Linked DNA regions of Homo sapiens. The protein of the gene in region 4 interacts with the protein of the main gene of each other region in a pairwise test. Each region holds a gene or a part of one and is shown on either strand. Other genes may lie near its edges. The genes, in order: KDR, ROR2, ALAS1 and DUSP19.

Region 1 (3,569 bases), on a different chromosome or scaffold from region 4:
AACCAAAGGCATCCACAGATTATTCTGCTGATAGATATCTGTGCTACATGAGGGTGTGTGTGTATGTGTGTGTGTGTGTTTGTGCATGCACATGCATGTGTATATATCTGTGTGTATAAAAATTTTGAAAAAAAACTCCCAATTGAGATTGACTCCTTTCACAAGGTTTATTGACAAGCAGAATATATTTTTATAGATTTCACATTTTAAAAGATTAATCATTATAATTTTTTCAAAATGAAGGATAATATTTACTTTAAAATTTAAAGTTAAATCTATACACTTTACCGACAAGTTTTACTAATATTTAAAATACTCATGTGCTCTCTCTTTAGGTAAATAATGTAAATTCCATGAAAATAAATGAATGGATCCCAAAGGATCTTTAGATTAACAGGAAACAGCTAACACTTTTGAATTTGGTTATTCAAGAGGACCATTCATGTGAGCATTTTAAGATTCTGAAGACTAGGGATATGATTCTTTCTAAAACCATGTTTAATTGTTTTTGCATTTAGTTTAACATTTAGCAGTCATTGATATCTTCAATGACAAACATTTGAAAAGTCACCACTCCAAAGACTGAGAAGAAAACTGAAGAGATTCTGACTGGGTTCTTGGCTCACGCCTGTAATCCCAGCACTTTGGGAGGCTGAGGCAGGTGGATCACTTGAGGTCAGGAGTTTGAGACCAGCCTGACCAACGTGGCAAAACCCCATCTCTACGAAAAATACAAAAAATTAGCCAGGCATGATGGCACGCACCTGTAGTCCCAGCTATTTCAGAGGCTGAGGCAGGAGAATCATTTGAACCGGGGGGCAGAAGTTGCAGTGAGCTGAGATAGCACCACTGCACTTTAGCCTGGGCAACAAGAGCAAAACTCCGTCTCAAAAAAAAAAAAAAAAAAAGATTTCAAGGCCAATCAAACATTACTCATACAATGTTAACATGCTGCTGGAAACCTAGTCCATTCCTCAGAGATAGAGATGATGTGGTGTGGAGTCATGCTTGAAATCTCAGAGAGATAACATTTCACATTGCTATGCCCAACACATCCCATCAAGCATTCTCAGAGTGCTTCATAATAGTCAGTCAAAGTGAAGAAAGAGTTAATTAAACCACAGGGGACAAAGGCAGCTAATTCCCTGCAACAGCAGAAGTTTGATTTCCTTCCCAGCTGGAAAGCACAGAAAAGCAGCCAATCTAGCCCACCACATGCCATAGCCATTATCTTATGAGGCCAGGGCTCACTTCCTGGCTCCATCCATTGCTGAAGAGAATGGGGTCAGAAGACTAGGGAAGTAAGGTGGCGACCAGAGGGGACATTAAACACCTATCCATAGAGAATACTTCAGTGTTTCCTTTCCCATTGTTTAACTTCATGGCCAAAATCTTGGACAGCCCAACTCCTAGAACTTTAAGCTTAGACAGGAAGCAGAATTTAATGGTATACCCAAAGACAGGCAGTGTACCAATAAACAGTGCTAGGGATTGCCACTTCTTAATATTGCCTACCTTTCATCCACATGTTATGAAATATTACATAACTTGCTTACAGAGCAAGCCTTTGGAAGCTAAATTAACCCTTTGACGTAAGACTAAACCTATTTAGTAAATCAATTCTATTTCGGTATCTCAAAAAAAGGAAATAAACAAAAGAAACCCAAACCACCACCCAGCCTCTCAAAATAAAATATTTACTGAAACTCATGAAATGAATTTTCACATGTCTCCAAGTTTCCTGACTTAGGAAGAAGTAAATAATGAGATATGGGGGATGTTCATCTTGTAGTATTTCTAGACAGGCTGAAAGCAGGAAATCCTTGCAATCTTCTGACCGAGCTGCATCTCTCAAGACTGCCAGGTCAAAAGGAGCCAGAAATTCTCCAAGATGTGAGCCTTGTCTCTTTCAAATCTTGTGGAGGGAAGGAGGAGGGCACAGAATTCTATCTTTGACAGTGCTTACTCTGGGCAAAGATATTTCTCAAACATTGTGAATCCAGTGGCATAGGTTATTTTGATGTGGTCTCCACTTTTTCATTGCACTGACCATATTACACTACTGAAATGTAAGCAGAGATATGCAAGTGTGTTTCCCAAAGCTGATGAAATTCTTGCCCTGTAAAAGCTGCTTCTGGGAAAAAAGTCTAAGTCATCTTCACCTGTCTCAAATACTCTGGGATGTAAAAAGGCATATACGTAAATACATAAAATGTCTGTTTATCTTCACTGAAAAGAAAAATATTTGGTACATCCAACCAAACTATGATGCAGCCCTTACATTCCTTAAATTTATATCATAGGGATCTCATTAGTTAAGTTAGGTTTTCACAGAAAAGATAAGATAGTGTAAGATTTTTGAAACACAAAAGAATGCATAACTCATTATAAATGCAGAATATGTGTGACATTTATTTTATACTATATGGATGTTAAGTCAGCCTTCATAATATCAATCCCAAACTGCACATCCTAGAAAGATACAGCATATCATCCAAGATCTCAGACCAAACAAGCAAAGGAAAGAAACATTGTCCTGAAAAGAGTCTGAAGCAATGTCTTTATTTGCACATGAGTATGGGAATTGTTTTTTATGAAATACTAGTAAGAAAAAAAGGTTCCTATGTGCAAAAAACTCCAGAGCCCTTGGCAAAAAATGCTTTCCTATGCATTCTTGGGAAAATCTCCTACTCTGCTGTAGATAACTTATCTCTCCACAGAAATTTCTCCATAATTCACCCCCAAATCTTCCTCGATTTCAAGAATTTTAGGTTTTCTTCTCAAACATAGGAAGACTTTTTATAAGTCTCAATGGCCAACAGTGAACACAGATTTACCTTGGAAACAAAGATCAGACCCAAACTAACTGGGCAAAAAAGAGGTAACACGGCCCAAGCTCCAGAATCAATGAGTCTTATTTCTCAGAGAAAGCCTCAGGAGAGAAGAATTGTGTGTATTCCTCTTGGCAAACAGCCTTTAGAGCAAGCCCTTTGTTGTACTCAATTCTTCTTTGAGCCTATTGTCTTTTATAACTGGTAAAGAGACGTGGGAAATGAATTTTATTTCACCACTTACCTTGAACATAGACATAAATGACCGAGGCCAAGTCAGTTTCCCGGTAGAAGCACTTGTAGGCTCCAGTGTCATTTCCGATCACTTTTGGAATTGTGAGTGTCTTACAGAAGAGGCCATCGCTGCACTCAGTCACCTCCACCCTTTGCTCACTGCCACTCTGATTATTGGGCCAAAGCCAGTCCAAGTCCCTCTGTCCCCTGAAAAATTAATTTCAGGGAGGTATTAATATGAAGTGCCAGACTGTGAGGCTATTTCTAAGAAAAGAGAAAATTTGGTTTTGAAACTTAAATAAACTCTTCAACAGACACAGTCAGTCTTCTACCGGCCAGGCATGGTGGCTCATGCCTATAATCCCAGCACTTTGGGAGGCCAAGGCGGATGGATCACCTGAGGCCAGGAGTTCGAGACCAGGCTGGGCAACATGGTAAAACCCTGTCTCTACTAAAAATACAAAAATGAGCCAGGTGTGGTGGCGCATGCCTGTAATCCCAGCT
Region 2 (3,569 bases), on a different chromosome or scaffold from region 4:
TCCAAATCAATACTTACGGTGCTTTTGTGGCCTTTCACAGACACACGCCCACGGCAGTGAAAAATTTGTGTCCCAGCTGGGGCTAAACAAGGCGATGGTCTGCTCCCTGGTTTCTGCCCTCATATTGTGAACATGTGGCCTTTTCTTGGTCTATTTAGTGCCAAGTTTCTTGCATATTTGGGCTTTTTGTTGGTGATTTTATTGTTTATGATGGCCCCCAGGCACAGCACTGAAGTGGTCTGGTGTTCCTAAGTGCAAGAAAGCTGCGACATGCCTTATGGAGAAAAAAATGTGTGTGAGAGAAGCTTCGTTCAGGCATGAGTTATGAGGCTGTTGGCCATGGGTTCAATGTGAAGGAATCAACAGTACACATTGAATATGGTGTCTTTAAACAGAAACACACATAAACCAAGGTTATGTATTGGTTGGTTGGTGAAAGTATTATGACGAGAGGCTCACAGGAATTTGACTCTGTATTTCCCATAGGAGCAGTGGTTCAGTATTCACTAATTCAGTGTTCCCTGTAGCTTTCTAGAAGATAATTACCGCAGATAACAACCTATTTTAGTAGGTGACAAAAATCGAAACCTTCCCTTGGAAGAGTTCATAGCAGAGCCCCCAGGTAGCCCTTCCTTCCAGCCCTCACTGACGCTTGCTCTTTTGTGACCGCTCTCCTTGGCAGGTTACTTTCTGAATTTTCTGGAGCCAGTAAACAATATCACCATTGTCCAAGGCCAGACGGCAATTCTGCACTGCAAGGTGGCAGGAAACCCACCCCCTAACGTGCGGTGGCTAAAGAATGATGCCCCGGTGGTGCAGGAGCCGCGGCGGATCATCATCCGGAAGACAGAATATGGTTCACGACTGCGAATCCAGGACCTGGACACGACAGACACTGGCTACTACCAGTGCGTGGCCACCAACGGGATGAAGACCATTACCGCCACTGGCGTCCTGTTTGTGCGGCTGGGTGAGTTGGACAGTGAAATTGTGTGGGTTAGCAGATATGAAGGTTCCCAGCCACCGAGCAAGAGGTCCAGTTGCTATTTGAAACTGAACACACACCAGTCAGCACGAGGGGAGAGCAATGAAACCGTTCCCTAGGGCCTTCCCCATGTGCCCCAGGGCCCAGCTTGACCTGTTACCCATTTACTAGTAATAAGAGAAAATAGGGCGAGGCACGGTGGCTCACGCCTGTAATTCCAGCACTTTGGGAGGCCGAGGTGGGCGGATCACCTGAGGTCAGGAGTTTGAGATCAGCCTAGCCAACATGGTAGTAGTTGGCCAGTTTAGTAGAAACTCCATCTCTACTAAAAATACAAAATTAGCCTGGCATGGTGGCGGGCGCCTGTAATCCCAGCTACTCAGGAGGCTGAGGCAGGAGAATCGCTTGAACCTGGGAGGTGGAGGTTGCAGTGAGCCGAGATCACGCCATTGCATTCCAGCATGGGTGACAAGAGTGAAACTCTGTCTCAAAAAAAAAAAAAAAAAAAAAAAAGAGAACAAAAAGAAAATAGGTGCAGATGGAGAGGTTTATGGACCTGGAGCCCAGAAGACAATCCCAGGCACACACGAGGAGCTGAGGTGTTTAGCAGGAAGGCTGTTTGTTAGGAGGTCAGGTGTCAGTGGGAGAGTGGCCACACTGCAGGACGGCTAGGTAGGGCCCGAGGCTGACCTGGCTGGGGTGGGGAGAGAGCTGAGTGCGATGACCAGAGATTCTGAGTCTCTGTGCTCGTCACACCTGGTGAAGGAATTAAGTGGCAGGAAGGACTGTGTCCCCCTTCATCCCACCTGTGAAAAACTCCCAGGCAGCAAACGCCCCGGCCCTGCCACCGAAGCCCACGCCATCCGATCATAAGTAGTAAAACAGATTTTGTGTGTAAAGACTAGATGAGAAGAGAGAGAGTAAGGACAGCAAAAACTCCAAAAACAAAGATATCCTCAGTGACAAAGCACCCCTTCCCTTGTGTGTGGTTTCCAGCCTTGCTGACGTAATCACGAGTGGAGCCTGAGGCCCGAGGACAGCTGCCCACCAGTGAGCCCGCTGGCTTCAGCCTGTTTGCCACTGGCCTGATTTGAAGAAGGTTGTATTCCAAATCATGGAGTATTAATAACTTGTCTTTTTGTTTCCTCTTTTTAGGTCCAACGCACAGCCCAAATCATAACTTTCAGTAAGTATCTGTTTTCCCCAAGCCGTGTTCTGCTGCTCTGAGGGTTTTTGTTATGTAGGAATCCGGGGTTTAAATCCTGCCAGCTCATGTCTTTGCCGAATTTGCTAGAAGTTGGCTGGGCTTCACACAGGGGTGGCCACGTGCTTGCTTAGGGTTGGGAAACATTTACATTTTTCATGTTTCTTGTACAGAAAAAAAGTCAGAAAAACAAAAATGGTTAATTTCTTTCTGTGATTGTGACCTTACACAGGGCTACTGAGAGGAGTATAAATATACAGGCCAGGTTGCCTGGGCACCAGGAAGGATACCGGCTCATTAGGACATTGGGAAACAGGGACGTAATTCACTCTGAAATCCCAGCACTACCAGCTGCAGTTAATAAATGTGTGCCCCTGAGCCTTGGGCCACCCCGTGGCAGTGGGTGGGAGTCTCAACCCCACCTTGCAGATGAGGAGACCGAGGCTCACAGCCAGGCTCACACTCCTTCACGAGCTGCTGACAGCAGTGGCTTTGAACTCAGGCCTCTGGTTTCCCAGTACGAGGTTATTCCACTGTGGCCAGGCTGTCTTGGGAGAGTCCCCTCTGAACTGCCCACACTCTCCCATCGTGTACCCAGAGGAGTGCTCATTCCATTGCCGGTGTTTGAGATGAGCAGTGACTGTCCGGGTTTCCTGCATTTCCTCCTCAGACATATTGGAGAGCAGTGCTTCACTTTGAGATGTTCTGAACAATAGCATGAACACTATATGGTTGGTAAAGTGTGCAGTGTTGGCTGATTTCTGTTTCCCTGGGCCTTGTACCCATTACCCACCCATGATGTGCTGCAACACCACGTTGGGAGGCTGGGCAGGGCAGCGACCTGTCTCAGCAGACATCAGCAGCTTGCTTGCAGAGGGCAGATTTTTTTCCCCCCCCAAATAGACAGGCCTGGCTTTTCACCCAGACTGGAGTGCAGTGGCACGATCACAGCTTACTGTAGTCTTGTACTCCTGGGCTCAGGCCATCCTCCCCCTTCAGCCTCCCAAGTAGCTGGGACTGCAGGTGCGTGCCACCACACACCCGGATAATTTTTTCTTATTTTTTGTAGAGATGGGGTCTCACTATGCTGTCCAGACTGGTGACAAACTCTTGCCTCGAGCAATCCTCCTGTCTCGCCCTCCCAAATCACTGGGATTGTAGGTGTGTGCCACCACACCTGACCTAGAGGGAAGATATTTGGGAAGATTCTGTGCTGAGCAATAGTGATGGAGCATTTTTCCTTAATAGTCCTTCAGACACAGAGTAAGGAAAGAAGAAATTGCATCATGAGCACAATTATGGGGCTTTGGAAAAAGGCATATAAGTCATTTCAAAAGTTGAACTATTGTTCTCTCTTATTTTATATTTATGTCTTTTATT
Region 3 (3,569 bases), on a different chromosome or scaffold from region 4:
GTGGACCTCATCCACGAAGGTGATTGCTCCAAACTCATGGGCCACATCACACAGCTCTTCCAGTGGGCACACCGCCCCTGAGGAAAGACCAGAGACTGCTCTGAAGAGCTTTTGCCGCTTCAGAAATTTCTGTTTTGGTTAGAGTCAGAACAACGTAAACTTCTATTCTAAGGTATCATTTTCAATATTGGAAAGAAAATGAACTTCCTCTAATTTCTAGGTTACCTGGGGTCCCAGAGCCTAGTAAAAGCCAGAATAGAAAATCCACTTTCACCCAAATCTATTAGAAAAAAGTCCACCAATTACAAATCTTGGCAGAATGCAATACTACACAGCAATAAAAAAAGAATGAGACCATGTCCTTTACAGCAATACGGATGGAGCTAGAGGCCATCCTAAGTGAATTAATACAGGAACGGAAAAACCAAATATCGCTCTCACTTATAAGTGGGAGCTAAACACTGAGAACACATGGACACAAAGAAGGGAACAACAGACACCAGGGACCGACTTGAGGGTGGAGGGTGGGAGGAGGGTGAGATCAAAAACTACCATTGGGTACTATGCTTACTACCTAGGTGATGAAATAATTGGTACACCAACACCCTGTGACACATAATTTACCCATATAATAAACCCGCACATGTACCCACTGAACCTAAAAGTTGGAAGAAGAAAAAAAAAAATCCTGGCAGAAAGGAAAAGAAAATTAAAAAACACAACAGGCCAGGCGCGGTGGCTCACGCCTGTAATCCCAGCACTTTGGGACGCCAAGGTGGGCGGATCACAAGGTCAGGAGATTGAGACCATCCTGACTAACACAGTGAAACCCCGTCTACTAAAAATACAAAAAGTTAGGCCAGGTGCGGTGGCTCACACCTGTAATTCCAGCTCTTTGGGAGGCTGAGGCGGGCAGATCACAAGGTCAGTAGATCGAGACCATCCTAGCTAACATGGTGAAACCCTGTCTCTACTAAAAATACAAAAAATTAGCTGGGCGTGGTGGCAGGCGCCTGTAGTCCCAGCTACTCAGGAGGCTGAGGCAGGAGAATGGCGTGAACCCAGGAAGTGGAGCTTGCAGTGAGCCGAGATCACGCCACTGCACTCCAGCCTGGGTGACAGAGGGAGACTCCGTCTCAAAAAAAAAAAAAAAAAAAATTAGCCAGGCGTGGTGGCAGGTGTCTGTAGTCCCAGCTACTCGGGAGGCTGAGGCAGGAGAATGACGTGAACCCGGGAGGCGGAGCTTGCAGTGAGTCGAGATCGCACCACTGCACTCCTGCCTGGGCAACAGAGCGAGGATCGGTCACAAAAAAAAAAAATTAAAAAACACAACAAAACACCATACTTTTAAAGAGTTCAGGCATAGTTTTTCATCTTAGGTTTCAGAGGAACCTCTATCCACACTTACCATCCATTGAATGGACAGTTTCAAATGCCACAATCTTGGGGACTGAGGGGTCAGATCTTTGCAGCAGTTCTCTGAGGTGGCTGACATCATTGTGGCGGAAGATGTACTTTGGCACTCGGCTGTTTCGAATCCCTTGGATCATGGAGGCATGGTTCCCAGAATCAGAGTAAATCTCACAGCCTAAGACAACAAAAATGCTATTTATTGCCATGTGCATCGAAGACAAATTATTTCCTAGAGAAAGACAACAGACTTTTCCTTGGAAATGATGCTTTGAAAATGCCTAGTAGGAAAAAGACACTGTGTGCCAGTTTCTTCCTGGCAAAATAACTAGTTAGTGCTTCCCTTGTGAGAAGGCCCAAAGGTGTAGAATAACCTTGTGGCAGGCCATTAATCTGCTCTTAAATCTGACTGCCTCACTCCAAACTCAATCAAGAGCTAACTAAATGATTAAGAGACTTCTCCAAAGGATCATCTTAGAATACAAAACATATTTGAGGCAATTAGCTCAAGGATGAGACGTTTCAAGTTTGAATTTTCACTGGTATCACGTTCTCCTGGAACCCATAATGTACAGTCAGCATTTCATGCTTGACCCCAGAACAAATGCCCAGATAGGATTATGATTTTCAATTGAGAGGTTCTGGTAAGGCTTCTTTGTTGCCAATATTCTTGTTATTACTAAGAAACCCAAAAAACTCGAAGGCACTCATGCCAGGCTTCCTTACCTGGCATCATCTTAGCCAGGGTGAAGAGGGTTGAGTCATTGGCCACAAAGCACGAGGAAAACAAGAGTGCGGCATCTTTCCCATGGAGGTCTGCCAGCTCCCGCTCTAAGTCCACATGGAATTTACTAGTTCCAGAAATATTTCTAGTACCACCTGCCCCAGCACCATGTTGTTTCAAAGTGTCCCTGTTTAAAAATACAAACAAAACCAGAAAATAAAGCTCATGGTTCTCAACACCATGTGAATTTTTTCCCCTTTCTAGGATCCAGGAGACTGAAACATGTTGATGTAGCAACTCTCTCACTGTGAAACCTGGGGTCAGAAATTTCAACTGATTTCATCTTCAGACTAGGTGGGAGAAGGTGTCAATGCTAGGGTGATGATACCTCCAGGAATCATCAAGAACAAGTGTTCATTTAACAGTCAGTAAGTGCTTGGTATTAGCTGAGTTTCTTTTCTAAGAAACTAAGGTTTATTTTCTGAGAAACATTATTCTTTCCAATAACATGTTAGCTTAAGAAAAAGCAAACTCTAGAGGGACATCCTGGATGGTGGTTACCCTCTGCAAGCCAGTCATGTAATGTTTGGATATATCACTATCATTAAACCTCAAACCGGGACCCTCTTTAGCAAGCCTTTGGAGAATCTGGCCAGCAACTCTCTCCAGCATCCCTAGGATGGTGAGCCTCCTGAAGGACGAGTGATGGGATCTACCATCCTTTTTAACATGTCTTTTGGAGTAGCTTTTTCTCTAGCGCTGCTAGATTCGTATTTCTCCACTCACAGCCACAACCAAGGATGTCTCTGTGAAAGACTGCCTGGTGTTAAAGGCACACTCACTTGCAGAGTGATAGAAAGTGGACTGACGTGTGTGGTCATTGAGCCTATAAGCTTGAACCCTCACAAGTTAAGGGGCTCCAGCAGCTACCTGCATATTAGAGTTCCTTTAAAAGTAATCTGTAGATATTTTTCAGAAGCTAAGAATAGTATTTTGCTATGGCACACTTTCAGCTACTGAATGTTCCCTCCATAAAAGATCCAACCCCTATACATCATCATTGGCTTGCCAAATAACAACAGTAATATTTGAAAGCCAAGGGCTACTTACATAACTGCCCCACACACCCGTGGGTGGCGACTCATTCCTAGGTAGTCATTACTGCACCAGACTGACACTTGCTTTTTGGTGATGAGGGAGTCTGAATAGTCATCTGCCATGGGGAAGATGTGTGCTCGCCGGTTCACAGTTTTAAAAACTCGATAGGTGTGGTCATTCTTTTTCTCATCAATTTTTTTCTCAAAGAAACGATCATACTGAAAAGTGGAAACAGCTAAAAATTGAACAAAAGACAGTACAGAATGGTGGTTGTGAAACACAGCTGCATTTTGGTGAAATACAACAAGTCTCAGCTTGGCAACTGAGGGAGATCCTG
Region 4 (3,569 bases):
ATGTTACAATCCAGAGCCTGTAAATTTTTTAACAAGAAAACAGAATGGCCAATATTAGGCTTTGAATTAAAAAACCTCTCCCTTGGCCAGGTGCAGTGGCTCATGCCTGTAATCCTAGCACTTTGGGAGGCTGAGGCAGGTGGTCTGCCTGAGCTCAGGAGTTCAAGACCAGCCTGGGCAACACGGTGAAACCCTGTCTCTACTAAAATACAAAAAATTACCCGGGTGTGGCAGTGTGCTCCTATAGTCCCAACTACCTGGGAGGCTGAGGCAGGAGAATCACTTGAACCCGAGAGGCGGAGGTTGCAGTGAGCCGGAGGTTACAGTGCACCGAGATCACACTACTGCACTCCAGCCTGGCGACAGAGTGAGACTGCATCTCAAAAAAAAAAAAAACAAAAAAAAAAAACACAAAAAACAAAAAACAAAAAAAACCTCTTCCTTTGCTTCCATCCAAATACAGTCGTGCATCATTTAACAATGGTGATGCATTCTGAGAAATGTGTTGTTAGGCAGTTTCTTCGTGGTGTAAACATCACAGAGTGCACTCACACAAACCTAGAATGGTATGGCCTATTGCTCCAAGACTACAAACCTGTTCAGATGTTACTGTACTGACTTGTAGGCAACAGTAACACAATGGTATGTATTTGTGTATCTAAACATACATAAACATAGAAAAGGTATGGTAAAAATACATTATTATAATCTTATGGAACCACCATCATATATGCAGTCCAAACATCATTATGCAGTGCATGACTGTATCTGCTATTAAGTAAAGTTGATGAACAGTAGAATTGAATAGTTTTATATTTTCTGGGTAGTCTAGTAGGAAGGCACGTAGAACAGTGCTGGGCACCTAAGGCATTCAATAAATATTACTAAATGAAAGGAAAGAAGGGAGAGAGGAAGAGAAAATGGGAAGGAGAAAAGATAAAGGGAGAGAAGGTAGGCCAGAGTTCAATTAAACCTGATTGTAATCCTGTCATTGTTAGGTGTTCCAGAAGAGTTATTTCTCTCTGTAAATGCTTCTACTTTCCCATCTACGTATCTTACATAAAGTCTGTAAGAATTATTTGCTGACTAAAAATGATGACATTTCAAGGAATAATTGTTGATAACAGCCAACCTAGAAACTTTGCCTGTCAGAATGTTGACTTCAATAACAAGCCTGAAGTACTATATGACATTGGCTATTGGTCTTCTAACTTCAGAAAACCAACAGACAGTTTCTGATCAGCATTTTCATACAATCTAAGTAAAGCAATACACATTTAGTCCTTAGAGTGCCTTAAAATTTTACTGCTAAAAATGCATAGTTTCACAATAACTATCTCATTCATTAAAATCAAATGCATATTAATCATCATAAATACACTAACAAGTCTAGAGCAGTCTCTGTTTTATAGTCTGAATTAATGTTGAAACTAAACATCTCATTGAAAAAAGAGCAATTAACCAAATAATTGTAGGAAATAATGAAATATTGTTAGAAGGGAAATTTCATAATTGTTTTTTAGAGATTCATTATAAAAATAATAAAGATTGGGTAATGGATCCACACTTTCAAATTTCTGCTTCTGCAGAACTATGGATCAAAACAAAACTCACTTTTCTTTTTGCTTCTTCAATAAATTCAAAACATTCTGGAAAATAAGACAGGATGTTGGTTTCAGGCAGATCCAATATAGAAATGCTCTTATATGTAAAGTCACTGAGGAAAGCATTTTCAACTCCATATGCAACATTAAGAATATGAGTCACCTTAAAGAGAAAGAAAAAAGATGATTGTTTTAAATCCCATGAATTAGGTTACCTAAAAAGAGACTGGGGTGTTGATATCTATAACAAGAAAGGTAAAAAATTTAAATGCGACTCACTTGAATGATAATACTGCTTCAATCCCACACCAGAAGTGCTCCTTCTACTATATGTTTTCTCTCTCTCTCTCTCTCTTTTAACTTATTATTATCATCATGCAGAGACAGGGTCTCTTTCTGTCACCCAGGCTGGAGTGCAATGATGCAATCATAGGCCACTGCAATCTTGAACTCCTAGGCTCAGGTGATCCTCCTGCCTCAGCCTCCCAAGTAGCTGGGACTACAGGCGTGTACCACCACACCCAGCTAATTTTTTTTTTTTTTTTTTTTTTCAGAGAAGAGGGGGGCGGGTCTCACTTTTTTTGCCCAGGCTGGTCTCGAACTCCTGGCCTCAAGTGATGCTCCCACTTCCGCCTCCCACAGTGCTGGCATTACAGGTATAAGCCACCACACCTGGCCTATATATTTTCATAGCCCTGGACTTGCCCTATTATAGCTCATGCCATTTAGAGATTGTTTTTCTCTTTCACTGCACTAGAAACTCCATGAGGGTAGGGACCATGTTTAACTTAGTGTTATAAGCGAATGAGCAGTGAGTTTAGCAGAAAATGCTTAAAATCTTTGTTGAATTAATCTGTGAATATCCATATAAAAACTTAAATAGGAGAAGTGTATCAGTGGTATACAACTTCCCTTTCAAGAATTATTTCCCTATTTTCCTTCATATTCTTTACTTTATAAAATGGTTCTCCAGGATGACTGCACATTAGAGTCACCTGATGAACTCTTAAAAACTATCAATAACACAGGGTCTCATACCCAGAGATTCTGATGAACCAATCTGGCTGAAAAGTAAGGGGAGGTGTGGTTGTAAAATATTTTCTTTCAGATGGTACACTTGAGCAACCTCCTCCTCTTGCATCTATGTATTTGAGCCCCTTTTCCTAGAGTCCACCAACCATGTGGAAGAAAGCCAGGCAGACAGTCCATTAAGATAATCCAAAGGCTGAGAATCACTTGAACCCAGGAGGTAAAGGTTGCAGTGAGCCACGATCATGCCACTGCACTCCAGCCTGAGCAAATGAGCGAGACTCTGCCTCAAAAAAAAAAAAAAAAAAAAAAAAAAAAAAAAAAAACCTAACAACCTTGTCCACATCTGTACTTCCCCTCTGCCTTCTGATTACAATGAAGGATGTGCTCGTGCATCTTCGATAAGGCTCATTCCAGAACCTGTGCTTGGAGTCACAGTGCTTCCTACTTTCTTGGCATCTCCCTATAGTCATAATTCTTGCTTTTCTGTATCTTCAATTCCTTCTTCTACCATCAGCCTTAAAACATGCTCAAAGCTCTCCCCTCCCCCTCCTCACCTATGGCTCCTCTCTCTCTTTTTTTTTTTCCCTTTGCCATCACTTCCTCACTTCTCAATCTTTTGCAATATGGCTTTGGCCTCCAATTCAAATGAAACTGTTTCCACCAAACGCACTAACAACCTCTCTGTCACCAAGTCCCATGGATATAATTTAGTCCTAATCGTACTTAAACTTTTACAGCATCTGACATTGCTGACTCTCTCCTCCTTAAAACACTATTCTCTTTAGTTTCCATGACACCATCTTTTTGTTTTACCTTCTTTGGGCCTCTTTTAGATCCTCCTTTCCCACTGCGGACTCTTCTTTGTTTGATCATTCCATATAGGGTGATATTCCTCAATTTATCAGTTCTGTGATAAGATTCTGTCATAGGCCC

Evidence for each region.
Region 1: the proteins of DUSP19 (region 4) and KDR interact in a two-hybrid assay, tested with the Homo sapiens proteins (one study listed by BioGRID and IntAct).
Region 2: the proteins of DUSP19 (region 4) and ROR2 interact in a two-hybrid assay, tested with the Homo sapiens proteins (one study listed by BioGRID and IntAct).
Region 3: the proteins of DUSP19 (region 4) and ALAS1 interact in a two-hybrid assay, tested with the Homo sapiens proteins (3 studies listed by BioGRID and IntAct).

Annotation. Positions count from the first base shown.
Region 1 is NC_000004.12:55,115,529-55,119,097, forward strand, and holds part of KDR (vascular endothelial growth factor receptor 2 precursor), read right to left. Parts: intron 3,273-3,569; coding exon 3,076-3,272; intron 1-3,075. UniProt on the Homo sapiens protein: Tyrosine-protein kinase that acts as a cell-surface receptor for VEGFA, VEGFC and VEGFD. Plays an essential role in the regulation of angiogenesis, vascular development, vascular permeability, and embryonic hematopoiesis.
Region 2 is NC_000009.12:91,754,673-91,758,241, reverse strand, and holds part of ROR2 (tyrosine-protein kinase transmembrane receptor ROR2 isoform 1 precursor), read left to right. Parts: intron 1-682; coding exon 683-970; intron 971-2,140; coding exon 2,141-2,171; intron 2,172-3,569. UniProt on the Homo sapiens protein: Tyrosine-protein kinase receptor which may be involved in the early formation of the chondrocytes. It seems to be required for cartilage and growth plate development. Phosphorylates YWHAB, leading to induction of osteogenesis and bone formation.
Region 3 is NC_000003.12:52,204,591-52,208,159, reverse strand, and holds part of ALAS1 (5-aminolevulinate synthase, non-specific, mitochondrial isoform 1 precursor), read right to left. Parts: intron 3,468-3,569; coding exon 3,245-3,467; intron 2,322-3,244; coding exon 2,137-2,321; intron 1,589-2,136; coding exon 1,409-1,588; intron 78-1,408; coding exon 1-77.
Region 4 is NC_000002.12:183,085,238-183,088,806, reverse strand, and holds part of DUSP19 (dual specificity protein phosphatase 19), read right to left. Parts: intron 1,768-3,569; coding exon 1,615-1,767; intron 1-1,614.